Linked DNA regions of Homo sapiens. Changing the gene in region 1 together with any one later gene gives a genetic interaction. Each region holds a gene or a part of one and is shown in the gene's direction. Other genes may lie near its edges. The genes, in order: ATG10, EIF1AX, CCT6A, ATP6V1A, DHFR, NOP16 and WDR82.

Region 1 (4,477 bases):
AGGTAGAAATGAGCTAAACCAACCTGCTTCATTCCTTCTAGTACTAATTTAATTTCAAAGGAAATTCTTCAACCCCAATAAATAAGTGAAAGTGGATGGAACCAGGGTCTGACTCAACATGTCCAATTAATTGCTTCTAAACAGTAAGGTACATTCTTTTAAAAGCCCCACACACAAAAATCAACCAGTAAAAAATGATCAGGTGAGAAGTGAGATGACTATCATCATCTCTGCTTACAAAACTCTGTTCAAGTTGACATTAATATTTGCCATCTACTCTATTATAAATCAAGATTTATTGTAGAAATATACCAAAGATAGCACAATAATGAAGAAAACAGAATCATCTCAGGTTTTGAAATATACCTAACAAATTCAACCTCTTGCAAAATAACTTTCTTATTCAAAATGGAACTGGGAATTGTTCAGCACACAATGAATCATCTTTTGGCAAGTACAATAGAATCTTTAGGGACATTTCACAGCCTCTTGTTCAATTGTTAGGATGTTTTTAGCTTTCACAGGTAGGGAAGAAGGTAGCTTATATAGCCATCATCTTGTTGCTAAAATTGTACAGTAAAGATTTTTCAGGCAATAGATCTTTTCAGATTTTTTTTTCCTTTTTCTTTATCCAGAGCCTCTTTGTGTCTCAAAAACAATCTGGAATTACTTAATGCTAATGTTTTCTGGTTTTACTATTTACCCAGGACTCAAATGTTAAACATTAATATGGGAAACTCCCTTTTCCTTGCCTCATAGCCTTATATTTATTTAACTGTTATTTTGTGAGAAGAAAATCTCCTCTTTTCCTCTCCATGTTAGTACTTTTCTTATTAAGAAACCCGTTTTCGTTTTGTTTTTGCTTTTTTTTAGGAGGCTTTCGAGCTACCCTTGGATGATTGTGAAGTGATTGAAACTGCAGCAGCGTCCGAAGTGATTAAATATGAGTATCATGTCTTATATTCCTGTAGCTACCAAGTGCCTGTACTTTACTTTAGGGCAAGCTTTTTAGGTAAGAACATGTCTGAAGCTAAAAGTAAATTTATAACATTTACATATAAAGCAAAAAGCATATTTGGAAAATTATTCTCCAGAGGAAAAAAAATAGAGTTAAAAATGAGAAAACTGTGGGTGAGGTAAGGTTTTACCACTAAATTTTCTCATGCTTCAGAAAGGGTATCAAGACTTCAGCGTGAATGATATCATCTCAGCCTTAAGTCTGATCTTCAGATTCTTGGCCTTTTGCCTGAAGTTGACTAAGCCCCCTGGCCCTTTTTCTTTTCTTTACTTTAAACAAGTAGGAACAACTTAAAGCTACAATGTTTATTTACTTCTAACTTTACAGTAAAAATTTATTTTAATCTCAGATGATCCAATTAACTCAGAAGCTCCTGTGCCTCCTTCCCCAAAAGCTAATAATTATTTTAAGAAATGTTTATCAATTAGCTTAAGCTGTATTTAAAAATAGCACTAACATTTCCTTCAGCCATCTATACATCTCCAATGCCTTAGCTTCCTGTGATGCTGTTACTCAACTCATTCCCCTGCCAAGAAGGTGGAATACCCTGTCTCCTTGGAGGCCTTAGCTAATAAAGCTTATTTAATCAGCAGCCACATGGCGTCCTCACTCTGCAGCACAGCCATGGCTTCCCGCTTAGAGTCCACTGCCTAAACCGGGTCAGCATTGGGATGTGCTGCCACCCAGGCCCAGGGACCAAGATGAGCCTCCTGTTCAGCCAACCCCTTGCCCTATTTCTCCTTTTGTATCTGGCCTTATCAGCAGCATTGTGCATTTTGAACAGCCTTCTGACTTTTTTCTGGATAGCTAAGACATCTGAATTTAGCCAATGATATTTTATTTTTAATTCAAAAGTAGCTTAAGCTGCTTGAATGTATGTTTGGTAGATTTAATCACTTGCTGTTATATTGTTTAATGGTCTCTAATTTTGCAGTGTTGGCAGTTTAACAAGCACTTAGGATTTAAAACACAAGAAGAAATTCTCATAGACTCCCTGGTGAGAAGATTTTAATCTGAGGTGCAGTTCCTAAGAACTGACAATTTGGGGTAAATTTTCAACATGGGACATGGGGAATGGAGGACACTGATAGTTCACTAATTCACAAACTCTTGCTGTGGATTTATCCATATAATTATTACAAGCCTTTAAAACACTCATTTTATGGTAATTATATTTGGTTTGGAGCCCAGAGGTTAAAGGAAGTTTCTTGTCAGTGAGCTGTGCTATACTAAAAAGTAGGAGATATATTTGTTTATTCAGGGGGAGGAAAATGTCTTTCTTGGTTCTGGTTTGCAATGGCTCTGCCTTCTAGATTCAGAGACAAGTCGAGGCTGCAGGTAGAGGAAATAAGACATTACTTCTTCAATACTGTACTTTCATATAATTAGTATTCACCATAAGCAGTTAATCACCAGAGAAGAGCTCCCAGAGACAAAACAAGTTGTTTAGCTTGTCAGCATTAGGGAATCAGAGGTGTTGAAACATGACTGCTTCTAGCTGGAAGTGGGTCTTGCCAAGGCCTGCTGATGAGCTCATATGTGTGCTTTGCTCTTATGTGCCAACAGCTCCCCTTACAGTACAGCACAGTAATTGTTCCTGCAAGTCCAATTATATTTTAATGACATTGGTGTAGTTTCTGTGATCCTTTCTTCACGATTTTCTATTCTTTTAAAAAAACACAATTAACATTCTTGGCTTCTATTTGTATACTTTTACAATGCCCTCCATTTATGCCTTATAAAGGTAAACCAAAACAAGTCATTTGTTTTTATGTAGAAGCATTCGCCCCCCACCACCACTGCTTTGTGTTGTGTAGAGTGGGTATTAGGAATTTAAAATTTTATTTTGGCCCAGAATTCATTTAGTGCTTGTTCAGGTACATTAAAATATCAAATTTAATTTTTGTGCAGCATACTGAATGTTTTCTGGTGGAGAAACATGAAGAATGGTTCTTTCTTTCCTTTATCATATTCTAATAATTTATTTTTTCTTTCCACCTAACTTAACCTCATGGATATTTTTAAAATGTATCAACCTTTACTCTGGAGTCACAATTTTTCATTTATTCCCCCCCCAGTCTTTTTTATTCTCCTTACTTTTTCCTGTGATATCTGATTACTCTGGCCCTTCATCTGTTTGTTAAACAAATCTCTGTCAGTGTGGTGAAAGGATTCCTAATGTCTTCCTCTTATTCCAGGCCCGGATTTTTCTTTGTCTCATTCTAAGAGAGTTCCGACCTAGAAAGAGGATGACTGTAAAATTTCTTGCCCAGGGGTCTTTTTTTGTTGTTGTTGCTTCAAAAATAGTTCACTTAGCCTTGTTTTTGACAGATATTTATAATTTCTTTTGCATTTGATTGTTAGTACAAATTAATTTCTCTGCTTTGCTCTAAATTTTCTCCCTGTACCTATTTTTTTAAGGAAAAGCAAAACAAGTAATAAATAGTTTCCATTTAAATTTACATTACCCTTTCTTGTATCAACTTGTTTAGATTTCAGAAGAAATCTTTACTCTGGTTCTCGAAATGCAAATCCCTTAGACTTTGAATTCCTTTTCTTTATATGGTCCAGTTTCCACCAGGCCAATTACTAGTAGCCCAAGACTCAGTTAACATGCCATCTATTCTTGTCGCTCCCATGTCATGTCATGTCATATCATATCATATATTCTATTATATCACAATTTGTACTATAGCAGAAATATTTGTTTATATCTATAAAATGATATGCTGGAACATAGAGCTTCAAGATAAAAACAAGAGTGAAGGAAATTGATACTGAGTGCCTACAAAGTGAGAAGCTTTATTTATGGCTTTGTGTGTATACATGTATAAGATATATGTATGTATATATATGGCTTATTCAGCTGTGGCACAGCATCAAGTATTTGTTAAGTGAAACGATAAAGAAGAATTTCTAGTCATTTAAAAAATACAGCCCAAGAATGGAAACATTGTGATGGTGCCTACTTCAACTGCTATGCCAGGTTTTGAAAGAGGAAGTAATTCTGTTGTCTCCAGGAGACCTAAGACCCAAACCATCTATGTATCTTTACTCTTTAGTCTGATACTTTTCAGAGACTATAGGAGTAGTGGACTTAGAAAAATAGAACATCCTGAGGACTCAAAAGTGGGTATCCAAACTAGCTGAAGCAGCTGTTCCACTTCTATAAACACGTATTTTTATTTAATTCTTGAAGGCAGACAGCCAAGTTGAGACAGCATTCTGCTTCTGCCTCTCATTTCTACTACTTTGGTGTACAGGAGCTCAGTTACCAAGTGGGCAACGTGGATTTAAGAGAAGAAATAAGCCCTTCCATCCCAATGTTCTGTTTTTCTCTAACTACTTTTGTCATTGTAGGTTTGGGAGAGGTGGTGGGACACAGTTAATACCCTTTGTCACTCAGGAGAGGGTGAGACATAATTGCACGTCTGTTGAGTAATAATAAATAGCCTACAT
Region 2 (4,477 bases), on another chromosome or scaffold:
TTCATCTGATGTTCTTTTCCCTTCCAGATCTAAATTGAACTCAACATTTTACATTCCATCTTTTCTGAAGATTGTCCTACAATTTGGATTTTGATCATGACAAAGAAGATTAAAATTTCATTAGCATGAATGCAATTTGTTAAAGCAGACTGATTTGTTTCTAAGATATTTTTGGTTTTTTTAAAACTGATAATAATGCTGAATTATCTTAAGTGAGATGTTAAGCCCACTTTGTTCTTTTAATGTAATGGAGCTTATGGGTAGAAGACCATGTCTACTAATTACAAAAAAAAAAAAAAACCATGCATTGCTGCTTTTCCTACCACTTCCAGTAAGAAAATGGGTGTTTTGAAGAAATCATTTGCCTTGTCCTCACGGAATCTGATTAAGCCCTGGCCTCTTGATTGTATAGAGTCATTGTGTATATTCCAGTTACCTAGATATTCCCTTGAGATTTTGATACAATTTGAGGGAGGCAGAAGTCTGCAGTTGAAGAAAAAAAATAAGTCTGTTTGTCATATTTAAGTAGCCTGTGGCTATTTTTATACTGATTTTGATATCATGTTCTTTTCATAGTCGTATTTTGCCACCGTAAACATAAAAAAAAAAAAAAAGATTTCCAAAATGCCGTTTTCAGAACCTGGGTTTTAATAGCAGTATTGAATTTGTAAGCTTAGTAGTTGCAGAAATTGAACACTAGGTGGCACTCAGTTATCTTAACAGGGGAAGTACTGATACAATTGTTGACTTTTCTTTTACTATGTGTAAGAAATACCCCAAACATGAAAAGATTGTTTTGATCATATGCATGTATGTAGAATATTTTTGCAGAGCAGAAAGATTATGTTAGAAGTGTGATTTTTATTTTCAGAAGTCATATACATGTAAGCTACAATTTTGAGTGCTTTATAAACACTTAAGATATATATATAAATTTTAATTTCATAGCAACTTGTAAAAAATAAAATACTTGTTGAAAAGCCTTTTTCAACATATCCCTAAGCTAAGGGAAGAGGAAGGAATAACAACTCAGTGAAAAGATGGTCTCCAGTTTCTGAATGAAAAAGCTACAGCTGAGAAATAAAATAAAATGTCATGCTGCAGAATATGTTATACCCTTATTTTGTGTTAAGGATATATTTTATTATGTGAATGGTTTTGTTTTTGTTTTTTGTTTTTGTTTTTTGCTTGTATTGGGAATTAGCTTTACTGGTAACTTCCTTATTTAGTTTTTAGTGGTCAACTCTAATAAAATGAAACTAGGGCTGAGCTAGTTAGCCCTCACTAGCCAAACTGAAACTCTATGCAACATTAAAAGAAGAGATCCATCATGTAGCTTGTGACACTTTTATTTTATTAGTCACCGGGGAACTTTTCAGTGATGAAAATACACAGGGTAATAAACCTTCACATGGCTTCAAAAGGAAAACAAGCAAATCTTCTCTAATCTACTCTTACTATAATTTCCTAAGTGTACACCAAACTCTGGATTTAAAAATCTGAAGTACTATAGAACATTAAGTTGAAGAATGGAAATTAAGAGTACGTATTCATGGTTTATATTTCTTATTCTATGGAGTTCGTGAACACATCTAGGTGGAATGCATCTGAGACTAAGGGCTGGTTTTTAATCCTCATAAGAAACCAGCCTTGAAGAATTAACAATTCTCTTCATTGGTATTCTAAACCTCCTAAGATATTTAGGCTTCTGTACATAAAAGTGTTTTTGCTAAATTTACAGTATATATAGATCCTTTCATATTATTTTACTAAGAATGTTTGAACTTTGCATATTTGATATAGTTCCTGGTAGGAATAGCACAGCTCAAACATTAGTTTTTCTACTTACCTCCTCTAACACGTGGTTTGTCTGGAGAGTTTCTAAAAATTCAGCTATAACCCCAGTTCATGTATTTACTGGTGATTGTTCTTGCTGAGGTAGTAACAGCCCAATCTTGGGCTGTTAAATCCTAGGAAATCTCGAATCATAGTGATTAAAATAGTTGGGGTAAAGTTGTAGCTTATATGCAATACTACTTGGAGGAATTCTTCTACTAATTTGTATTTAATGTGGAAATTGTATAGTTTCATTGATTTAATCATAAATAATGGAAATGGTCTCCAAGAAGTTTTATTTTTCATTTTTTTGCTTATACACTCTGATTCCTATAATACAGTGCTATAAGCTATGCACAGAAAATAAAATGTTTGAAATCCAAGAATAATGGTTCTTACTGCTAAGAGGGAGTAATAGTTATTACTAATGATTTTGATTGGGTTGCATTTTTGTTGCAATGTTTATTCCACTTGCAGTTAGAATATGAATATGTTTTATCACTAGTGTGGCTAAATAACCAAACATTTGTGTAAAAAAAAAAAAAAGCCAAGATTTCATTGTTTGTTGAATATTTCTTAAGCATCTGGCCCCTAAAGAGACCGCTTCTTACCAAGCCTGTAAACTATGCATGATGGAAATTCTTGTATTTTATTTAGGAATGGCTGTTGGTTTACTCACCACATCTGTGGAATCATGGCTATAAATGTTTGCTTACAAACTCTTTGTGACTTGTAATTTAACTTAATCTCATCTAATGTAAATATTAGATTATGATGTTCAGTAACATCTTCCATAGGTATAAACTGCTGTCATTATTGATTTCAGAGTAACTCTGAGTAATCAAATAGGTAAAAGCATGTTTTGAGTAAAATAGCTAGATTTATACTTTACTTGTATACAGACTTAACAACAACCGGTATTGACTGGATTGACAGCTAAAGTATCAGAATGAAAGCAAGGTTTTTTTGATGTTACCTGACTGTCATAAAGATGAAAATGATTTGTATTGGTATGAAATGCTTATCTTTATTCTACTTCGTAAGGGTAAGTTTTATTTATACTCTTTGGACTCCCATGAACTTTTGCACACTGCTTTGTGTTTTTGGTTTACCCTAAACTACCATCCTTTTTATCTTTGCTTTTTTTCTTCCTATTCAGAAAAGAGCAAAATGTGAAAAGACACAAGACTCTCAGGTATAGAATGAACTGAGCAATTTGGAGAATGTATTGGACTTTGTCCTCTCTTATTCCCCCCTCCTAGCCCTGCAAGTTGCTAGGTACTTGTGAGGCAGTGTACTGGAGAGGGGAGAGCATGGATCCTGGGGTCAAAGGGCCTTTGCCCCCACCCTTACTTGGCCCTCTACCTGCAGGTGACCACTGGCACATTCTCCTGCTTGTCTCAGCTTCAGGTTCTTCACCTCTAAGATGGGGATGATGAAAACAGTACCTGTCATGCAGAATTGTTGGGAGGATTGATAATTTAGATGTTTATACATGTAATGTACTTAGATCAGTGTCTGCTCTTTTCACTTGATATCCAGTACTATGTAAGATAGAAGGTGCATGTCTTCTGTATTCTGTATTTCCCATTTCTTTTGCGTGCAGTCTTTGATTCGTACAATAGAAGGAACACGTAGAATGTATATTTGTACATTCATGTCAACATAGTATTTGAAATTGCTACCAAACTCATTTAATTTGGCATAAGACTAACAGATGAAGTCTCTCATTTGCTTGAAGATATTTTACAAAATACCAACTGTTCTATATTTCTTTAGAAAAAGATTATAGTTATTAATATTGATACCTCTGATAATATTTTATTCTTAAATCTTCAGTGATTCCTTTTACTATAGATTCATGACAGCTAATTAGTACTAACTGATTTAGAGGTTTCCTTTCCCATCATATGGAATGATGTAAAGAAATCAGATACAAACTACTGCAATTAGAAAATAAAATATGAACAACTTTCAACAATGTATACAATTGATTCTTTTCTAACTTTATAACATTTTAAACTATTTATTCATATGACTCTTTTCCAAAAATTTGCTGTTTTTAAAACTTAATTGTGATATATAAGGAAAAGGTATACCTTGTTTTTATTTTTGTCTGTTTTTGGTTGTTTGATCTGAATGAATCCATTTAGCCATATTCCAGATATGGGGTTGCATTTTCTCAGCAAGTGAATTTGTCACAAATCTGTGCTGAAGAAGGCATTTTCTAATGGTAAGTCACTTCAGCAGAGTGACTTCAGATTGCAAAGTCACATTCAACAGACCTTTACTTTATACGATGCAGAGACCTATAGGTGAAGTAAATACTTACACTTCTGGCCAACTTGCCCCCTTTTAAAAGCCCAGTCTGTACTGCCATTCCAGTCCATTGTTTTGTTCAGTTCACAACTTGATGTTGGTAGATCAGAAAGTAGGGACAAAGTCCGAGTCAAGTCCCATTGCTGATTTCTGTGCTGTCAGATACAAAATTAGTTGGACTTCGCAGATTTGATAACGTTTAATACATATTTACAATTTTAAACCTGTCTTAGGAATCTAACAATGGGATTTTTTTTTGTTGTTTTTTTCTTGAGACAGAGTCTCACTCTGTCGCCCAGGCTGGAGTGCAGTGGTGCAGTCT
Region 3 (3,500 bases), on another chromosome or scaffold:
CTAAAAATGGAATGTTTAGGACTAGGCATATTTGTTAGGAAAAAGGCAACCAAAAGCTTATATTTGGATAAATTCCACTTTTTTAGCCCTGACTAGTTCCAAGGTTAAAGCAAACCTCAGTGAATATGAATGTATTGTCAGAATTTCCTGGAGAAAGAGAACAGTCTTTATTTTTATTAGTAAATGATGTGAGTTAGTTTGAGATTACCTATAGAAAGGATAGAATAGTCCAGGCGCAGTGGCTCACGCCCATAATCCCAGCACTTTGAGAGGCCGAGGTGGGCGGATCACCTGAGGTTGGGAGTTCGAGACCAGTCTGACCAACATGGAGAAACCCCGTGTCTACTAAAAATACAAAAATTAGCCAGGCGTGGTGGTGCATGCCTGTAATCCCAGCTACTTGGGAAGCTGAGGCAGGAGAATTGCTTGAACCCAGGAGGTGGAGGTTGTGGTGAGTCGAGATTGTGCCATTGTACTCCAGCCTGGGTAACAAGTGCGAAACTCCATCTCAAAAAAAATGAAAGAAAATAAAGATAGGATAATGCTACCATCTGTGAGTTGTTGGGACACAGTGTTGGTTTTGAAATGATTCAGAGTGGTTTGCACAGTGAACACCCAAGTGTGCTTTATAGTTCCCTTGGCTTTGACCCTGTGCTAGAGCATTCATTACCTGTTCATCTGCTCTGCATTGAAAGGAATATTTGTCCTTTTAAATGTATTCAGAAAGCCAGCACATTATATTACCTCGTGTTCAAAGGTATGATGATCCAGAACACTCCTTCAATAATTACCTGAACTTTATCATGAACTATGGTTGCACCTAATTGAAGATGCAAGTGTTAATGTGTGTTTATTTTAGGGCCTTCATCCTAGAATAATCACTGAAGGATTTGAAGCTGCAAAGGAAAAGGCCCTTCAGTTTTTGGAAGAAGTCAAAGTAAGCAGAGAGATGGACAGGGAAACACTTATAGATGTGGCCAGAACATCTCTTCGTACTAAAGTTCATGCTGAACTTGCAGATGTCTTAACAGAGGTATGTATTAAATTTTGTCTATGTCTGGTATAGTATACCTATATAGAAAATCTCTGATAGTAGAAACATGAATATGATTACCAATTTCAATTACAAGGTGCTGTGTAGGTTCATTTTTGTGGCAATGATACCTAATCTGTGTCTCTAAAAATGAGGAAATTAAAATAATAGTATACCTAACCAGGTTATAAAAGTAAAATTGAAGCTTTCATTAAAAGGTTTATAAAGTGGAGATTTTTTTATTAGAAAGCTTCCAGTTACCAGTATTTTTAATAAAACGAGGAATGTTAATGTTAATTAATGTTAATGTTTGGGAATTATAGATGGAGATTTCAGAAATGTAAATGACTTCAGCTGTTGCCTTTTACATATAATGTATTCTATTTGCTGATAGAAAAAGACTTAAATCAGTGTAGAATTGTAAAATGAAACTGCCTACTTTAGCCTTCTGAAAAGCAACATGTTTCTGCTGCAAATTGAATTTACTTAACGGTTATGCTCCTCCAATTGCAGGCTGTAGTGGACTCCATTTTGGCCATTAAAAAGCAAGATGAACCTATTGATCTCTTCATGATTGAGATCATGGAGATGAAACATAAATCTGAAACTGATACAAGGTAGGTGGTAGAAGACTGTGAAATACTAATGGGCATGGAGGCTCACACCTGTAATCCCAGCACTTTGGGAGGCTGTGGTGGGCAAATCACCTCAGGTCAGGAGTTCCAGACCAGCCTGGCCAACATGGGGAAACCCCGTCTCTATTAAAATTACAAAAATTAACCAGGCGTGCCGGGCATGACTGTAATCCCAGCTACTCGGGAGGCTGAGGCAGCAGAATAGCTTGAACCTGGGAGGCGGAGGTTGCAGTGAGCTGAGACCACACCATTGCACTCCAGCCTGGGTGACAAGAGCGAAACCCCGTCCCATTAAAAAAAAAACAAAAACAAAAAATAAACTGTGTTTAGAAATTTAGGGGTGCTTTGTACAATATAGATAGTTGGCTTTTTTTTTTTTTGAGATGGAGTCTTGCTCTGTCGCCCAGCCTGGAGTGTACAGTGGCATGATCTCGGCTCACTGCAAGCTCTGCCTCCCGGGTTCACACCATTCTCCTGCCTCAGCCTCCCGAGTAGCTGGGACTACAGGCGCCCGCCACCATGCCCGGATAATTTTTGTATTTTTAGTAGAGACGGGGTTTCACCATGTTAACCAGGATGATCTCGATCTCCTGACCTCGTGATCCGCCCACCTCGGCCTCCCAAAGTGCTGGGATTACAGGCGTGAGATGGCAATTTTAAAAATATCTTTGGATATAAAATGTTATATATTTACCTGAAGATATAAGTTGGATAAACTGCTAGGAGAATATTGTTTTTAGTAATATTTTCTCCTGAAATAAGGTGAATGTTATGTTTATGGTTAGAATGATTCTGAAAAGTGAACAACATCAGTCATTTGGCATTTATTGAATTGCTAGGTACAAAGCATAATGAGAAGTAGTAGAGGAATTTAAAAAAATATTTTTTTCAAAGAGTTAGTTAGAAAACATGTTTGTTTTCCCTTTGGGGTGTGTGTGTGTGTGTGTCTGTGTGGAGAATGGAGTCTCCCTATGTTGCCCAGGCTGGTTTTAAATTCCTGGGATTAAGGTGTCCTCTCACTTCTGCCTCCGTAAGTGCTGGGATTACAGGTGCTTGGTAGAAAACATGTTTTTAAAGGACGTCATCACAGTTTGACAGCCTACCAGTGAGACCATCTCTGCAGACTTTTCTGTACAGCGTAGGATCTTCAGGTAATTTAAGAAATAGGCCGGGCGCAGTGGCTCATGCCTGTAATCCCAGCACTTTGGGAGGCCAAGGCGGGCGGATCACGAGATCAGGAGATCGAAACCATCCTGGCTAACACGGTGAAACCCCGTCTCTACTAAAAATACAAAAGAATTAGCTGGGCATGGTTGTGGGTGCCTGTAGTCCCAGCTGCTTGAGAGGCTGAGGTAGGAGAATGGTGTGAACCCAGGAGGTGGAGCTTGCGGTGAGCCAAGATGGCACCACTACACTCCATCCTGGGCAACAGAGCGAGACTTCATCTCAAAAAAGAAAAATGTGACTGCGTGAAATATCAATACCTTCTCATTTCAGTGTTTAATATATTAAATACCCATCTGAAAATCAATAACCATAATTTTGTGTGTGTTTAAACAGCTTAATCAGAGGGCTTGTTTTGGACCACGGAGCACGGCATCCTGATATGAAGAAAAGGGTGGAGGATGCATACATCCTCACTTGTAACGTGTCATTAGAGTATGAGAAAACGTAAGTTTATAGCCCCTTAACAGTGAAATGGAGAAGCTTCGTATTTTAGGCGAGTTACTTTTTTGTGAAACTTTGTTTCCCACTGTAAGGACAATAATGCTCAAATTGGTTTGGGGGAGCTATAGGAAACAGTCTCTGAAGATGCATAAGGGGCAGGATTG
Region 4 (4,477 bases), on another chromosome or scaffold:
TCCTTATTTTATTTTTGTTTAGATATCCTGTACTGATATTTATTATTACTATTACTCATCTTTGTAGGAGATGAGAGGGCTGGCTGTGACTGTGTACCAGGGTAGCAGGAATTCTTCATGGTAACTTGTGAAGTTTATTATGGCATGCAGCTGTGTAAAAAAGCTATTTTACTCTTCTTGCCTGATACCAGAAATCAGCAGCTGTAAGACCATTCACAGTGAATTCTCCTCTGTCTCACCCACTTTTCATTTAGTGAAAATAGGGAGTACCTACTTGTGTTTTATTCATCCCTATCTTCCTGCTTCTCTTTGATGCCAAACTGAGTACAAGGAACTCCTTCCTGCGACTGGCCATGTAGCTTTTTGCAGTGTTCCAAACAAAGCACTCTTGCTTTGTTTGGAAACAAACAAGGCACTTGAAGATGTGCCTTCAAGTTTGCAGAAGCTTTATCTGAGATGCATGGCCTCAGATGAATTCTTGGCATTTTTCCATACCCTTATTTGGTTTTCACCTTATTTAGGTGACTTTTTAAATTATATTGTTGTGGGACTATGTCTCCTAGTTTTTAATGACTAAATTTGTATTTCTGTATTTCTTGTTCTCCTTGTTTGGAGGTAAGTTTTATGAGGAAGAGACAGTGACATATTCATCTACCATTTTAAGAAAGCTACCTTATTCTTTTAAATGGCTGCACAGTATCCCTTTGTATGGATATATCATAATCAATTTAACTGGCATCTTTTTGGTGGACTATTGGATTCTTTATCGTCGTTTACGATAGGCAGCACTAAAACATCCTTAAACATATATTTTTACACTATTCTTTGTATGTTTTGCATGCATGTTTCTTTGCATGTTTTTTTTTTCCTTAGAGACAGGGTCTTGCTCTATCACCCAGGCTGAAGTGCAGTGGCATGTTCATGGCTCACTGCAGCTTTGACCTCCTGGTCTCAAGGGATCCTCTCATCTCAGCCTCCCAAGTAGCTGAGGCTACAGACATGAGCCACCATGCCTGGCTAATTTTTTTATTTTCTGTAGAGATGGGGGTCTCACTATGTTGCCCAGGATGGGCAACTTCTAGCCTCAAGAGATCCTCCTGCCTTGGCCTCCCAAAGTCCTGGGATTATAGGCATGAACCACCATGCTTGGCCTCTTTGTACATTTCTTAGGGTAATTTCTTAGAAGCAAAATTCCTGCCAATACAGCTGCTAATTATTATTTTACATTCTGATAGCCCTTCAAAAGGGCTAACTGTGGACAAGAGTTTCTGCTTCTCAACATCTTCACCAATGCTAGTTTTTTCAACACGTTCTTATGATAATTATCAAAGATACGGAAAAGTTGAAAGAATGTTACAGTGAATACCATGTACCCAGCACTTAGATTTGACAATTGAAATTTTAACTATTCTTGCTTTATTAGATACCTGTTCAATCTGTATTTAACAATGAACTAGCATCTTTCTTGTGTGTATGAACCATTTAAAAACTGCCTTGTGTTCATTTTCCTTTTGGATGATAGTTGTTTTTCATACTGATTTCTAGAAACTCTTTTTGGTTTTTTGTTGTTTTTTTTTGTTTGTTTGTTGGTTTTGAGACAAAGTCTCACTCAGTCACCCAGGCTGGAATGCAGTGGTGCGATCTTGGCTCACTGCAGCCTCTGCCTCCTGGATTCAAGCAGTTCTACAACCTCAGCCTCCCGAGTAGCTGGGATTACAGGCATGCACCACCACCACACCTGGCTAATTTTTGTATTTTTAGTAGAGATGGGGTTTCACCATGTTGGCCAGGCTGGTCTCGAACTCCTGACCTCGGGGGATCTGCCCACCTTGGCCTCCCAAAGTGCTGGGATTACAGGCTTGAGCCACCGCGCCTGGCCAGAAACTCTTTGATTAATGAATAAATTCGTCCTTTATCTGTCATGAGTTGCAAATATGTCCCAGCTTGTTTATCTCTTGATTTTGTCTGAGGCATATTTTTCTTGTAGGCACTGATACCTGTAGGTCTGTCAGAGAATTCTCACTTACTCATATGTATCTGTCTTTTCTGCCATTTCTTTCTAATATCACAAGTATCTGTGACATTTCATCACAGATTTAAAACACAGCATGCTTGTATAAGAAAGAATCTGTTCTTATTAGATTGGAATATGTGGTAATTATTGTGTTGTTGAAGCCTTAATATTGATAAGTAATGTTTCCTAAAGACTTTCTTCATGAGACCATTTTATGGATGCCTGAACAGTCAGTATTTTTTATTCTGAAAGATGCAATATGATAAATAGGAAAGTACTGAATTTTCCACTAATTATGTTAATTTTACTTATATAAACCTCTGTTTCTTTACCAGTAAAATAAAAAAACCAAGGCATTATAAAAGTTCCAAAATCTTTTGGAACTTTTATAATATAACTATATATTTTTCCTAATATCTTAGTGTTTCATAGCGCTTTGTACTTTTTAGATGACATTTATTTAATTCACTTCATCTGCCATATATACAAGTATATAGGGCAGGCGTTATTCCATTTTTAATAGGTTAGGAAGCCACACTGGGAAATCAAGTTATTTTGCTAAGGTTAATGACAGAATAGGAACTAGAACCCAACACTCGTTTCTGTATATTAGCTGCTTATAAGTGGTTTACTGTCTAAATTTACAGGATAGGACCTGATCTGCATAGCAGAATAATCTGGACAATTAAGATATTACTCATTTTAATAACATTTGCTACTTTTGAAAAGTAACCACCCAAGCTGATTGGTTAAGGGTTACTTTTGCATGCATACATGTTTGTGTGTGTGTATGTGATATATAGAGAGAAGCTACATTTGAAAATTAATTTCAGACTTAATTATTTCAACAAAGAATAGAGAAAGTCATTTCCTGCTTTCTAAAATGTGCATTATATTAGGGCCAGCTAGGCTATGGCATCAAATAATTCCAAATATATATTTGCTCAATATAATAGATGTTTATTTCAAGTGTTCAGGGCACTCTTTACTCTGTCATTCTGAGCCATGATCCAGCCTGAAATGAGCTCTACCATTTTCAACACATGGCTTCCAAGACTACTGGGAGTTCTTTCCATTTCAGTAGGCCAGAAGGAAGAAAGAGTATGGAAGAGCGTGTGACTTGCCTGACCGTAGAACACATTATTTTGACTTGAGTTTTGTTAGCCAGAGATCAGTTACATGGCCATATCTAAGTGCACAGGATGCTAGGAAACAATTCAGTGTGTGCCCAGAAAAAGAGGAAGAGCAGCTTTGAGGGAGCCACTAGCAGTCTACGTTGTGTACTTATTGCTTTAAGGTTTTCTTAAGGGTGGAAAAAAACAGGATTTTTATATGCTAGCATTGTAACTTATAATAATATTCTTCCCAATTTAGGAATCACACTGTCAGAGTACTTCCGTGACATGGGCTATCATGTCAGTATGATGGCTGACTCTACCTCTAGATGGGCTGAGGCCCTTAGAGAAATCTCTGGTCGTTTAGCTGAAATGCCTGCAGGTAAGTCTGTGTATTGCTTATCATGTAAACAAGACTGATGGGATTTTCGGGGCTGGCTTAGAAACTCTGTTTTAAAATTTCTTTTCATTTTTCAGATAGTGGATATCCAGCCTATCTTGGTGCCCGTCTGGCCTCGTTTTATGAACGAGCAGGCAGGGTGAAATGTCTTGGAAATCCTGAAAGAGAAGGGAGTGTCAGCATTGTAGGAGCGTAAGCACCCACACTATTTACTTTGCAAAAGGAAAAAAGTCACAGATGTATTAAAGAGAGAAAAAAAGTCACTTATTTTAAAGAGAGAATATTTAGCTCCCGCTGGGAGCAGCGGTTCTTAAGGAGGGTTGCACTCCAGAGTCACCTAAGGAGCTCTTTGAAGATGCACATGTTTAGGCAATTTCTACATGTCCTGGTTCCATAGGTTTGACTTTAATTTATATATTTATATGTTTAATTTAGATATTTATTTAATTTTTATAATTTAGAAAATTATAGACATAATAAGGTGAGATTGCATCACGGTAAAAAGAAAGTGAAGATTCGTGATCACTACATAAAGCCATACTTTTTTCTTAGAGCGTTTCCTCCTTGCTTCATCTATTTGATTAGAATAATAAAATTGATTATAATAAAATATCTATCTCATGTCTCATAATAGAAGGTGTTCTGTAGTTTCTATTGTTGTTTACAACTTAAATACTGGCTTTTGTTTAAGATTTTTAGGTAAGATTTTCTTTCCAAAGGTCATTTCTAAAGTTATTTACATTAAAAAGTTATTTACATTAAAATCGACTTTAAAAAAAGTTAACATTTATATATATGTTATTTTTCATAAGCATTTCTAATGACCATTTTTTTTGTAATGACCATATTTTTTTTAAATTTAGAGTTTCTCCACCTGGTGGTGATTTTTCTGATCCAGTTACATCTGCCACTCTTGGTATCGTTCAGGTATGTCTTTCCCTAGTATAG
Region 5 (3,606 bases), 1.5 Mb from region 1:
CTGATGTTTCTTCTTCTGACCCTAAAACTTCCTGTCAGGATGCTGGCATACTCGTCCACATGACTCGGATATCCCTTTGCTCCTGAGCCTGTGCTTCCTGTAGAGTCTTGATTTTAATTGTATTTTGGTTTTTTGGTTTATTTTTTGTTTTTGAGATGGAGTCTTGCTCCGTTGCCCAGGCTGGAGTGCAGTGGCACGATCTTGGCTCATTGCAACCTCCACCTCCCAGGTTCAGCGATTCTCCTGCCTCAGCCTCCCAAGTAGCTGGGATTACAGGCACGTGCCGCCATGCCCAGCTAATTTTTGTATTTTTAGTAGAGACAGGGTTTCATCATGTTGGCCAGGCTTGTCTCGAACTCCTGACCTCAGATGATCCGCCCGCCTCGGCCTCAGCCTCCCAGAGTGCTGGGATTGGAGGCATGAGCCACCGCACATGGCCCAAAAACTTCTTGATATGTTGCTTTTGTCTTATGAACTGACAATCTTGACACTTGAGAATTTTGCACAAAAAATGTATGTAGATGTTACTTTTCATGACTCATTCCAGAGAGACTAAAATTATAATAGAAAATGGTTAATAGAAACATTGCTTCTTCCCCTGAAATATAAATTATTCCAGAAAGTATCTTTTTCTTTTCCCTATAATTTTGTTACATTGTATCTCTGTTTTTGTTTTTTTTTTTACCAAAAATGCATAATCTCTAATTAGTCAGCAAAGGTTAATGTCTATTATTACTCAGCAATGTATTGAATATCATGAGACTTAAAAGTTTACTGTGTTGTCCCTGCCTACAATGAGTTTAAAAAATAGAGAAACGAGGCGGGCGGATCACGAGGTCAGGAGATCGAGAACATCCTGGCTAACACAGTGAAACCCCGTCTCTACTAAAAATACAAAAAATTAGCTGGATGTGGTGGCGGGTACCTGTAGTCCCAGCTACTCGGGAGGCTGAGGCAGGAGAATGGCATGAACCCAGGAGGCGGAGCTTGCAGTGAGCCAAGATTGCACCACTGAACTCTAGCCTGGGCTACAGAGCGAGACTCCGTCTCAAAAAAAAAAAAAAAAAAAGAGAAATGAAACAAACCAATAATACTAGTAGGCACCATTTATAGAACACTTGATGTGTTAGGCACAATGCTACATTCTTTTTTGGTTTTGGGGGATGGGGGCGGAGTCCTGCTCTGTCACTGAAGCTGGAGTGCAGTGGCGCCATCTTGGCTCACTGCAACCTCTGCCTCCCAGGTTCAAGCAATTATCCTGCCTCAGCCTCCTGAGTAGCTGGGATTACAGGCACCCGCCACCATGCCCGGGTAATTTTTGTATTTTTATTAGAGACAAGGTTTCCCCATGTTGGCCAGGCTGGTTTCGAACTCCTGACCTCAAGTGATCCACTCACCTTGGCCTTCCAAAGTGCTGGGATTACAGGCGTGAGCCACTGCACCTGGCCAACAATGCTACATTTTTTACAAGGATGAAGACTTTATTGACAGCCAGGCTCGGAGGCATGTCACACAGCAGAACCAGAGTGAAGCACAGTCTGATTCAAGCAGGCGTTCCTGACCACCTGGAGCATACTGGGGTGCAGCCTGCATAGTACTGAAGAAGTAACCAAAGATTGGGGTTCATTGGAGGCTGGAAGGGTCAGAAGATTCCTCAGTGGAGAAGCTGGGTTTGGAAGGGGAGCTGGAGAGAACACAGGCTTAAGTGAGAGTTAGGGAACAGGAATAGCAGATCCTAATAAAGGAATTACAATCTGCCACACATTGTGGAATTAGGGCAGTATAGTCTCCATCAATCAAACAGAAGCAGAGAACCTGTCACTGTCCAGGGCACATAATTTCAGTTATGTTCTAAACAGCTTCAGATTGTATTTTTGTCTTTTGCTTACACAAGAAATGTGATACCAAATGTAAGTCTTGCAAAAAATTCTTAAGAAATTTCCTGTTAGCTGGGTGATAGAGTGGAAAGATACAAGGGAAACTGCTGACTGGTTTTTGAGAGAATGAGGAATCCAAAGGAAACAAAAAAGGAGAAATTACACTTTTTGTTTTCTAACTTTCTATATAGTTTACAGTTTTTTTCTTACCATTTGCATATGTAGTATACTAGCATGATATTTATCCAACTTGACAGTGGCTTACCATTGTGAAGAAAAAAGGGAAACCTTTTATTTGCTTTATGCACTATTGATGCATTTAAACTGAGAATCAGGGAAGCTGTGTTTTTAATGGACACATAATTTAATTATATATTTTTTCTTACAGATACCCAGGTGTTCTCTCTGATGTCCAGGAGGAGAAAGGCATTAAGTACAAATTTGAAGTATATGAGAAGAATGATTAATATGAAGGTGTTTTCTAGTTTAAGTTGTTCCCCCTCCCTCTGAAAAAAGTATGTATTTTTACATTAGAAAAGGTTTTTTGTTGACTTTAGATCTATAATTATTTCTAAGCAACTAGTTTTTATTCCCCACTACTCTTGTCTCTATCAGATACCATTTATGAGACATTCTTGCTATAACTAAGTGCTTCTCCAAGACCCCAACTGAGTCCCCAGCACCTGCTACAGTGAGCTGCCATTCCACACCCATCACATGTGGCACTCTTGCCAGTCCTTGACATTGTCGGGCTTTTCACATGTTGGTAATATTTATTAAAGATGAAGATCCACATACCCTTCAACTGAGCAGTTTCACTAGTGGAAATACCAAAAGCTTCCTACGTGTATATCCAGAGGTTTGTAGATAAATGTTGCCACCTTGTTTGTAACAGTGAAAAATTGAAAACAACCTGGAAGTCCAGTGATGGGAAAATGAGTATGTTTCTGTCTTAGATTGGGGAACCCAAAGCAGATTGCAAGACTGAAATTTCAGTGAAAGCAGTGTATTTGCTAGGTCATACCAGAAATCATCAATTGAGGTACGGAGAAACTGAACTGAGAAGGTAAGAAAAGCAATTTAAAGTCAGCGAGCAGGTTCTCATTGATAACAAGCTCCATACTGCTGAGATACAGGGAAATGGAGGGGGGAAAGCTGGAGTATTGATCCCGCCCCCCTCCTTGGTTGTCAGCTCCCTGTCCTGTGTGTGGGCGGAACATAGTCCAGCTGCTCTATAGCAAGTCTCAGGTGTTTGCAGTAAGAAGCTGCTGGCATGCACGGGAACAGTGAATGCCAAACACTTAAAGCAATTCGATGTTTAAGTATGTAAGTTCTTTTTTTTTTAGACAGCGTTTCGCTCTTGTTGCCCAGGCTAGCATGCAATGGTGTGACCTCGGCTTACTGCAACCTCCGCCTTCCCAGATTCAAGCGATTCTCCTGCCTCAGGCTCCCAAGTAGCTAGGACCAGGTGCGCGCCACCACGCCCGGCTAATTTTTGTATTTTGTATTTTTAGTAGAGATGGGGTTTCACCATGTTGGTCAGGCTAGTCTCGAACTCGTGACCGCAAGCGATTCACCCACCTCAGCCTCCCAAAGTGCTGGGATTACCGGCTTGAGCCACCACACCCGGCACATCTTCATTCTTTTTATGTAGTAAAAAGTATAAGGCCACACATGGTTTATTTGAAGTATTTTATAATTTAAAAAAATACAGAAGCAGGAAAACCAA
Region 6 (4,162 bases), about 94 Mb from region 1:
TCCGCTCGCTTCGGCCTCCCAGAGTGCTGGGATTACAGGTGTGAGCCACTGCGCCTGGCCAAATCTCTGCTTTCAAAGTGCCCTGGGTGGCTGTTACTAGGAAAGTTCGGGAATCACTAGACTACACGATTTCTAAGCACCACTCCAAAGTCCGTTTCCTCCAAAATCAAAGACCAAAAACCATGGGGATGATACTGAATTAAATACAAGTGGATTTTTAGAGTTTATTAAGCAGGGGAGTGGAGGGGAGATGTGGCACAAATAGAAGTATGTAACATTCAAACAACAGCATCTAGGATTTTTGAAAAAACTTTCGGTTACAGTTACACAAAGGGTCACTTCCTCCCCAGCGACACATGGGCCTCTCAAAGGAGAGGAGGGAGTAAGTCCCACGGTAGGGCCAGTGGTTGCTCCCTGGGTTTTGGAATCATTTCTGCGGAGCTTTCAAGGCCAGACCCTGGGCTTAGGGTCGAGACTTCATAGCAGTGACAGCCAGACCCAGCAAGATGGCTGCGACCGTGAAACCCTGGGCGGCGATCCGGGTGCGCATCATGAGCTGAGAGCGCTGGCTGTTGCCCCGGTGGAAGGAGTAGAGGCCGTAGGTGAGGGCGGCCGCCGTGGCCAGGCAACCTGAGGAGGGGACAAAGCAACTGGGAAACAGCAGGTCGGGCCCCGCAGGTCATTCCCCGCTTTGGGTCTCGCTTCCCCAAAGCCAAGATCTCTGGATCACAGCGGAGGGAGGGCGGCGAGGGTAGGTCGAGTCGAGGTCTTCCTAGTTACAGAGTCCTCCCAATCTTAGGCCCCAAATCCCGCCCCCTAAACCCGCTGCTCCCGCTCCAATCAGTTTCGCCCCTCACCGCCCCGCCCCCTCGTCTCTTCTCTAGTCCGCTCTCCTTCCGCTCCCCGCTAGCGCTCTGGTCCTTCTCTACTTCCTTCCCTCCGACATCACTGTCCTCTCCTTGTGCAGTTCCTACCGCACCCACTTACCTATGGGTACCACCGGGTTCTCGCGGGTCTTGCGAACGAACTTTTCCTTGAAACTCTCTGGATTCCTGTAAACAGTGGGGCTCAGCCCCTCAATGACTGGAGGCTTCGATGGTTCAAAGGGGACCTCCGGAATCACAGGGCCGGGAGTCGCCATGTCCGGGCCACAGCAGCAGGAGAAAATCGGGACTCCGACCTCAGCCTCCCGGTGAAGGTCATGAAAGGGGCGGGGAAACGAATAAATTGAGCCTTGTACGCAGGCGCAAATGCTCGTTGCATCCTGGGAGTCGTAGTGCTCAGCACGGTAGTGCTACAAAAGGACTACATTTCCCCAAATGCCCGCAAAGCCTTGTGCACGCCTTCCGGAAGGAGTTTGTTACACGAGGTCTGAGAGACAGAGGCAGCGTGTTTGAGCTGCTGGTGCGGTGGTCAGCGCGATGCCCAAGGCCAAGGGCAAAACCCGGAGGCAGAAGTTTGGTTACAGTGTCAACCGAAAGCGTCTGAACCGGAATGCTCGACGGAAGGCAGCGCCGCGGATCGAATGGTGAGGGGGCTGGGGTTCCGGGTGGCCGTGGGCCTCGGCCGGGACGGTCCGCGAGATGACGGATCCGCGATGTCTCTCTTTGCCGGTAGCTCCCACATCCGACATGCCTGGGACCACGCTAAATCGGTACGGCAGAACCTGGCCGAGATGGGGTTGGCTGTGGACCCCAACAGGGCGGTGCCCCTCCGTAAGAGAAAGGTACTGACATGGCAGGGTCTCGGTCCTTGTCTTCTTTACTCTTCCCCCGCCATACTGACCTAGGTGTCAGAACGTGGTACTGCCCATTCCTTCCCTCAGGCCCTTCCGAGTTTTCGACCTCCCCACAGTCAGAACGCTCAACTGACGTTGAGCAAGGGTCTCTTTACGACCTTCGTCACACTCCCTCCCCAGCACACATTCCCCATACCCCCTCTACTCAGTCTTTTTTCTCTGAAATTAACCCATTAGCATCTCAACGGTATTTTCCTTAATTTATCTTTTTCTACCCTTAACTTTCCTAATTAGTACTCCCTAAGAGTTGGAGATCTTTACTTACACCTTTTCTTTGTTATTCAATCATCCTTGGTCTGAGGCTTCCCTAGGCTTCCCTGACTGCAGTCTCCTTCCCGGGTTCAAGCTATATCCCACCTCAGCGTCCCAAATAGCTGGGATTATAAGCGTGTGCCACCATACCCGGCTGATTTTTGTGGTTTTAGTAGAGGCAGGGTTTCGCTATGTTGGCCAGGCTGGGCCTCAAGTGATCCGCCTGGCCCCCTGGAGGCTTCAACAACTATTAAAAGAATCCAGGTTCCCAAAAGAAAAGCAAGCAATTCATCTTTCTCTGCCTGCCTATCTATAAAATGGGTATAACACTCCTTGCCTTAGGGACTATCTAACTGTGTGGCTGTAGCCTCACATTTATTCAAGAAATGGTAGTGCCATTTTCCTCTGGCATGAAAGAATAAAAAGAAACTTGCCTAAGGCAATGGAACAAATTCATTCGCGAAGCCCATTCATTAGGTTAACTACTTATTGAGAACATGTCACATCCTAAGCACCCTGGGGATTTAATAGAGAACAAAACACAAAGTCCTTGTCACCAAGATTGTGTTGGGGGTAAAAGGCACAGACGGATTACTTGAGGCCAGGAGTTTGAGACCGGCCTGGCCAACATGGCAAAACCCCATCTCTACTAAAAACACAAAATTTAGCTGGGCATGGTGGCGCATGATTGTAATCCCAGCTACTTGAGAGGCTGAGGCAGGAGATCACTTGAACCCGGGGGGAGGTTGCAGTCAACCAAGATTGTGCCACTGCATTTGAACCTGGGCAACAGAATGAGACTCTGTCTCAAAAAGAAAAAGAAAAAAAAAAAGAGAGAGAGAGAGAAAAAGCCTCCAGGGCATTAGTTCTCATTGTTACCTACTTCTACCTAACCGTGGGCAGGGATTCTTATGGGTTAGTAGTTGTGTTGGGATAAGCAGGAGTCTATAACTTTCCCTCATCAAAGATCCTTCTGGTCTCAAGGGCTCTGTTCTCTGCAGGTGAAGGCCATGGAGGTGGACATAGAGGAGAGGCCTAAAGAGCTTGTACGGAAGCCCTATGTGCTGAATGGTGGGTGTGGTCCATATATTCCTTTAGGTCACTGTCCTGCACTGTGGGAAGCTGGGAAGGGCCCTAAGATGTCCTCATTTTGCAGATGGAGAAACCAAGTTTCAGAGGGGAGAAGTGAGCTGGTTCAAAGTTCACAGAGTTAGGACTGTGTCCTGGCTGGCTCATTTTTCATTGTACTGACTAAACCCTGACCTTACTGTGTGAACTAAGGTCAGAGATGTTTAGGGAGGATGTACCCAGGTGCCTGGGAGAATAGAAGAGAAACCAGTAAATCTCTGGCATGGGTATGGCTTCTCATGAATTTAAGGATGAACTGATTTTTAGGGATTCCACCATCTCAATAAATGTTCCAATGACAAAATCGATTTTATGTATATTAAGGCTATAGAGAGTGAACGCTAAAACGGAGGAGAGTAAACCCTACAGGAAAGTGGGAATACTCTAGAATTCTTCATTCATCCTTCCCCTTACCTGTCAGGGAGTTTAAGCAGCTCCCCTAAAGATAAAGGATTTGAATGGCCAGACATTTGATACAGAATTCCTTGAGTTCCTGTCTTTTATCTCAGTGGTTCTCATAAGAATTACTGCACAGGATTGTATATACCAAGCCATAGGCACTTACTGTAGTCAAAGAGGAACATTTTTAAAAATTTTAAAATGTGGTTAAAAAACACATAAAAGTTACCATCCTAACCATTTTTAAGTGCACTGTTCAGTAAAGGATATTGACTTTGTTGTGCAACAGGTCCCTAAAACCTTTTCATTTTGCAAAACTGAAACTATACCCATTAAACAACTCCCCATCTTCCTCTACCTCCAGCCCCTGGCAACCGTGTCAAAGATAATTTTGACTATATACAATATGAGGACCTAACCTCTGGATATGATTCGACTACTTCATTTCTCTGAGGTAGCTCTTTCTCTCTCTTTCTAGATGAGAAATGGAGTAGGATTTGCCTGTCTATTTTAAAAGTGAAGCCATTAGTTGGCTCCACATCCTGGCTTTTTCTCTCCCATGGAGCACTAGTAAGGTGCTGGGGC
Region 7 (4,477 bases), on another chromosome or scaffold:
ACTAACAAAGTTACAGTGTTTCAAAGAACTCCCATATGATTCAATAACTGGTTACATTTTCTGCATTTGCTTCATGACTGTAGGTAAATATTTATATGTACTGTGTGCCTCCCCCCACCTTTAGAGTTGGAGGTATCAAGCCCCTTTATCCCTAAACACTTCAACATGGATTTTCTTTCTTTTTTGAGATGGAGTCTCGCTCAGTCGCCCAGGCTGGAGTGCAGTGGCGTGATCTTGGCTCACTGCAACCTCCGGCTCCTGGGTTCAAGCGATTCTCCTGCCTCAGCCTCCTGAGTAGCTGGGATTACAGGTGCATGCCACCATGCCTGGCTAATTTTTGTATCTTTAGTAGAGGCAGGGTTTCACCATGTTGGTCAGGCTGGTCTTGAACTCCTGATCTCGTGATCTACCCGCCTCAGCCTCCCAAAGTGCTGGGATTCCAGGCATGAGCCACTGCGCCCGGCTCAACGTGGATTTTCTAAGCACAAAGACATTCTTATGTAACCAGAGCACAGTTATCCAAATTAGGAAATTTAGTACTGATACAATACTACAGGGCATGCTCTTGAGTTTTCTCTGATCAATTAATTGTAACCTTGTTTCATTATCTGTGGTGAAGGAGTGGCCTGGTAGTTAGGAGGGAACTGGGTACTAGTTTGGCCTGTGACTAGGTATGTGACATTGGTCAGATTACTTCTTTGGGTATTAGACAACCTCTTTAGTTTCCATTCTAGGCAATAATATGATGAAAAATTTTGTCACTAGTATAGGTCAAACCGACCTCAGAAGAAAAGAAGTATTTCCTTGGGAAGGCATGGTATTGTATCTTTTATTTATTTATTTTTTTGATAGGGACTTTCGCTCTTGTTGCCCAGGCTGGAGTGCAGTGGCTCCATCTCGGCTCACTGCAACCTCCGCCTCCCGAGTTCAAGCGATTCTCCTGCCTCAGCCTCCTGAGTAGCTGGGATTACAGGCATGCGCCACCACACCTGGCTAATTTTGTATTTTTAGTAGATGCGGGATTTCTCCATGTTGGTCAGGCTGGTCTCGAATTCCCGACCTCAGGTGATCCGCCGCCTCGGCCTCCCAAAGTGCTGGGATTGCAGGCATGAGCCACTGCGCCCGGCCTTTCTTTTTGTTTGTTTGTTTGTTTTGTTTTGTTTTGTTTTTGAGACTGCCTCACTCTTTCCTAGGCTGGAGTGCAGTGGCGTAATCTTGGCTCACTGCTGCAACCTCGCTGCTGGATTCAAGCGATTCTCGTGCCTCAGCCTCCCGAGTAGCTGGGATTACAGGCACCCATCAGTGTGCCTGCTAATTTTTGTATTTTTAGTAGAAATGGGGTTTCACAATGTTGGCCATGTTGGTCTCAACATCTTACCTCAAGTGATCTGCCCACCTCGGTCTCCTCGGCCTCCCAGAGTGCTGGGATTACATATGTGAGCCTCCGCACCCGGCCCTGTTTTTTTGTTTTGTTTTGTTTTGTTTTTTTGTTTGTTTGTTGTTAAGACAAAGGTCTTCCCCTGTTGCTCAGGCTGGAGTGCAATAGCATGCTTATAGTTCACTAAAGCCTTCATCTTCTGGGCTCAAGTGATCTTCCCACCTCAATCTCCAAAGTAGTTGGGCCTACAAGCACTCGCCAACTTACTTGGCTATTTTTATTTTTAGTGGAGACAAGTTCTCACCAGGTTGCCCAGGCTGGTCTCAAACTCCTGAACTCAAGCGATCCTCTCACCTAGGCCTCCCAAAGTGCTGGGATTACAGGTGTTAGCTACTGTGACCGGCCGAAGGCATAGTATCTTTATTAGATGACCCTAGTGTTAGAATTTGGGAGTTTGAAAATGGCTAAAGCAAGATTTTGTGTGCTTAGTATTTTCCAGTTTACTGGTCATTTAAATTTTCTTTACAATGGAGTTCGCCCATTGAGTGATATTTCAATTTGGAAGAGTATAAAGGATATTGTTTGTGGTAGGTGAAGCAAATTACTCAAAGTGAAAGGTTAATATTATTTTCCTTGTTGATGCTTGATCACCAGAATTATAGTTTGAGGAAGGAAGCTTACCAAAATATTTGAAAAATGTTGTGCATGTATTTTGTAAGACCCACATGGATGCAGTACAGTATAATCTTGCTTTCAAGTTAGGAAATGAGTCCAGGTGTGGTGGCTCACACTTGTAATCCCAGCACTTTGGGAGGCCGAGGCGGGTGGATCGCCTGGGTCAGGAGTTCAAAACCAGCCTGGACAATGTGGTGAAACCTTGTCTATACAGAAAAATACAAAAATTAGCTGAGCCTGGTGGCAGGGGCCTGTAATCCCAGCTACTCAGGAGGCTGAGGCAGGGAGAATTGCTTGAACCGGGGACGCAGAGGTTGCAGTGAGCCGAGATCGTGCCTCTGCACTCCAGCCAGGGTAACAGAGCGAGAATGTCTCAAAAACATAAAAATAATAAAAATCAAATTGGGAAATGAAATGAGGCAGTAGATTTCTGTTATCAGGAAAAAAAATCTCAGGTTAGTGTTTTTGATAAATTTGAGACAAATAGACCAGATCTAAGTGGAACCAGAAATTTTCCTTACACTATTCTCTTTCAACTTGTCAAGTTAGAGTTGGCTCTTCATGTTCTGTCTTTTTTTTTTTTTAAGACGGAGTTTCGCTCTTGTTGCCCAGGTCGGAGTACAATGGCGCGATCTTGGCTCAATGCAACCTCCATGTCCCGGGTTCCAGTGATTCTCCTACCTCAGCCTCCCAAGTAACTGGGATTACAGGTGCCCACCACCACACCTGGCTAATTTTTTTAATTTTTAGTAGAGATGGGATTTCACCCTGTTAGCCAGGCTGGTCTCAGACTCCTGACCTCAGGTGATCCACCCACCTTGGCTTCCCAAAGCCTGAGATTACAGGCGTGAGCCACTGCGCCCGGCCAGTTTCTGTCTTTGCTATTGTAGATGGGATGAAATAACTGATATAAACTTCTTCCACTGGTAGCAGAGTCAACTATGTAGAGAGTAAGTATACAGCCACACACTGAGACTGCCTCACTGGTTACCACACAGTAACCCCACATCAGAACCCCAGACAGTGCACTTGGCAAAGTAGCCTTTGCTGATCTTTTTAGGAGTGAAGTGTTATTTCAGTAAAGGTAAGAATGTGGAAAATCCAGTGTATTTGTAGTGAGAAGTCTGTTGGAAATGGGTTTCATGTAGGGAAGCCCTTGGCCTCACTTTAACAAAAATTGAAAGTGCAAATAACTGACTTCTTAAAGACTGCTTGAGTCGTGATTGTTTAGTACCTAGATTCTGAGAGGATTTTACATTGAGAGGATTAGCTTTCCTTTTCATAAATTGGAACTCTTGGTTAACATTAGTACAGGATTTATGAAATCTTTCTAAAGAACTAAATGTAGGACATTATGTTAAAGGCTTTCCTGTTTTTTCAGTTGATCGTATTGGAGAGTTATTTTAGCATTTGAATCTAGATTTACATAGATATTTAAGTCTCAAATTTTTATTTTTCTTTTTTTTTTTTTTGAGATGGAGTCTTGCTCTGTTGCCCAGGCTAGAGTGCAGTGGCGCGATCTCAGCTCACTACAATCTCTGCCTCCCAGGCTTAAGTGATTCTCGTGCCTCAGCCTCCTGAGTAGCTGGGACTACAGGCGTGGGCCACCACACCCAGCTAATTTTTGTATCTTTAGTAGAGATAGCGTTTCGCCATGTTGGCCAGGCTGGTCTCAAACTCCTGACCTCAGGCAATCCACCCTCCTCGGCCTCCCAAAGTGCTGAGATTACAGGCGTGAGCCACCACGCCCAGCCTAAAATTTTTCTAACTTAACCAGTATGTGTTAGAGTTTTTGGTTAAAGGTTCTGTTGAGACCAGTTTTAGCCTTGCTCTTCAAGGTTCTGTAAAGGGAGACATTTAAGGAACTTCAACAAATGGAGATTGATAACCTCTAGCTTGGAAATGTGTGATTTTTTGTCTGTTATTGAGGTGGAGTCTCACTCTGTCGCAGAGGCTGTATTGCAGTGGCACGATCTTGGCTTACTGCAACCTCTGCCTCCTGGGTTCAAGGAATTCTCCTGCCTCAGCCTCTTGAGTAGCTGGAATTACAAGTGTGTGCCACCACACCCGGCTAATTTTTGTATTTTTAGTAGAGACGGGGTTTCACCATGTTGGGCTGCTCTCGAACTTCTGACTACAGGTGATTTGCCTGGCTCGGCCTCCCAAAGTGCTGTGATGACTGATGTGAGCCACCACCTTGTGGCCAGAAATGTGTGATTTTGCTTTAAAGTAAAAGCAAAGGAACTATTTAACTGGTTTTGCTAGAGAAAGTTAGGCTTGCCTTCTAAAAGGCTCAGCAAGCGCTTTTGACCTGTAGGATAGGAAGGATGGATGTCTTCTGCAAGAGCAGGTTACATTAGCAAAGGCAAGCAGTTTTGCATCTGGTTTCAGTTTTGAGGAATCACTGCCGTCTTGAAAAAAAAA

The links.
Region 2: of ATG10 (region 1) and EIF1AX, changing one suppresses a phenotype caused by changing the other (phenotypic suppression), as found in Homo sapiens cells (one large-scale study listed by BioGRID).
Region 3: of ATG10 (region 1) and CCT6A, changing one enhances a phenotype caused by changing the other (phenotypic enhancement), as found in Homo sapiens cells (one large-scale study listed by BioGRID).
Region 4: of ATG10 (region 1) and ATP6V1A, changing one enhances a phenotype caused by changing the other (phenotypic enhancement), as found in Homo sapiens cells (one large-scale study listed by BioGRID).
Region 5: of ATG10 (region 1) and DHFR, changing one suppresses a phenotype caused by changing the other (phenotypic suppression), as found in Homo sapiens cells (one large-scale study listed by BioGRID).
Region 6: of ATG10 (region 1) and NOP16, changing one suppresses a phenotype caused by changing the other (phenotypic suppression), as found in Homo sapiens cells (one large-scale study listed by BioGRID).
Region 7: of ATG10 (region 1) and WDR82, changing one suppresses a phenotype caused by changing the other (phenotypic suppression), as found in Homo sapiens cells (one large-scale study listed by BioGRID).

What each region holds. Positions count from the first base shown.
Region 1 is NC_000005.10:82,163,526-82,168,002, forward strand, and holds part of ATG10 (ubiquitin-like-conjugating enzyme ATG10), read left to right. Parts: intron 1-873; coding exon 874-1,012; intron 1,013-4,477. UniProt on the Homo sapiens protein: E2-like enzyme involved in autophagy. Acts as an E2-like enzyme that catalyzes the conjugation of ATG12 to ATG5. ATG12 conjugation to ATG5 is required for autophagy. Likely serves as an ATG5-recognition molecule. Not involved in ATG12 conjugation to ATG3.
Region 2 is NC_000023.11:20,123,862-20,128,338, reverse strand, and holds the end of EIF1AX (eukaryotic translation initiation factor 1A, X-chromosomal), read left to right. Parts: intron 1-27; coding exon 28-33; 3' UTR 34-3,814; downstream 3,815-4,477. UniProt on the Homo sapiens protein: Component of the 43S pre-initiation complex (43S PIC), which binds to the mRNA cap-proximal region, scans mRNA 5'-untranslated region, and locates the initiation codon. This protein enhances formation of the cap-proximal complex.
Region 3 is NC_000007.14:56,054,765-56,058,264, forward strand, and holds part of CCT6A (T-complex protein 1 subunit zeta), read left to right. Parts: intron 1-600; exon of another isoform or gene 601-738; intron 739-859; coding exon 860-1,033; intron 1,034-1,546; coding exon 1,547-1,650; intron 1,651-3,228; coding exon 3,229-3,339; intron 3,340-3,500. UniProt on the Homo sapiens protein: Component of the chaperonin-containing T-complex (TRiC), a molecular chaperone complex that assists the folding of actin, tubulin and other proteins upon ATP hydrolysis.
Region 4 is NC_000003.12:113,791,484-113,795,960, forward strand, and holds part of ATP6V1A (V-type proton ATPase catalytic subunit A), read left to right. Parts: intron 1-3,388; coding exon 3,389-3,511; intron 3,512-3,606; coding exon 3,607-3,721; intron 3,722-4,392; coding exon 4,393-4,456; intron 4,457-4,477. UniProt on the Homo sapiens protein: Catalytic subunit of the V1 complex of vacuolar(H+)-ATPase (V-ATPase), a multisubunit enzyme composed of a peripheral complex (V1) that hydrolyzes ATP and a membrane integral complex (V0) that translocates protons.
Region 5 is NC_000005.10:80,627,825-80,631,430, reverse strand, and holds part of DHFR (dihydrofolate reductase), read left to right. Parts: intron 1-2,265; coding exon 2,266-2,344; 3' UTR 2,345-3,606.
Region 6 is NC_000005.10:176,385,799-176,389,960, reverse strand, and holds the start of NOP16 (nucleolar protein 16), read left to right. Parts: upstream 1-1,362; 5' UTR 1,363-1,421; coding exon 1,422-1,528; coding exon of another isoform or gene 1,529-1,617; coding exon 1,618-1,726; intron 1,727-3,017; coding exon of another isoform or gene 3,018-3,051; coding exon 3,052-3,121; intron 3,122-3,941; exon of another isoform or gene 3,942-4,031; intron 4,032-4,162. Other genes in the region: HIGD2A (HIG1 domain family member 2A, mitochondrial), read right to left, coding at 464-630, 988-1,141.
Region 7 is NC_000003.12:52,271,592-52,276,068, reverse strand, and holds part of WDR82 (WD repeat-containing protein 82), read left to right. Parts: intron 1-4,477. UniProt on the Homo sapiens protein: Regulatory component of the SET1/COMPASS complex implicated in the tethering of this complex to transcriptional start sites of active genes.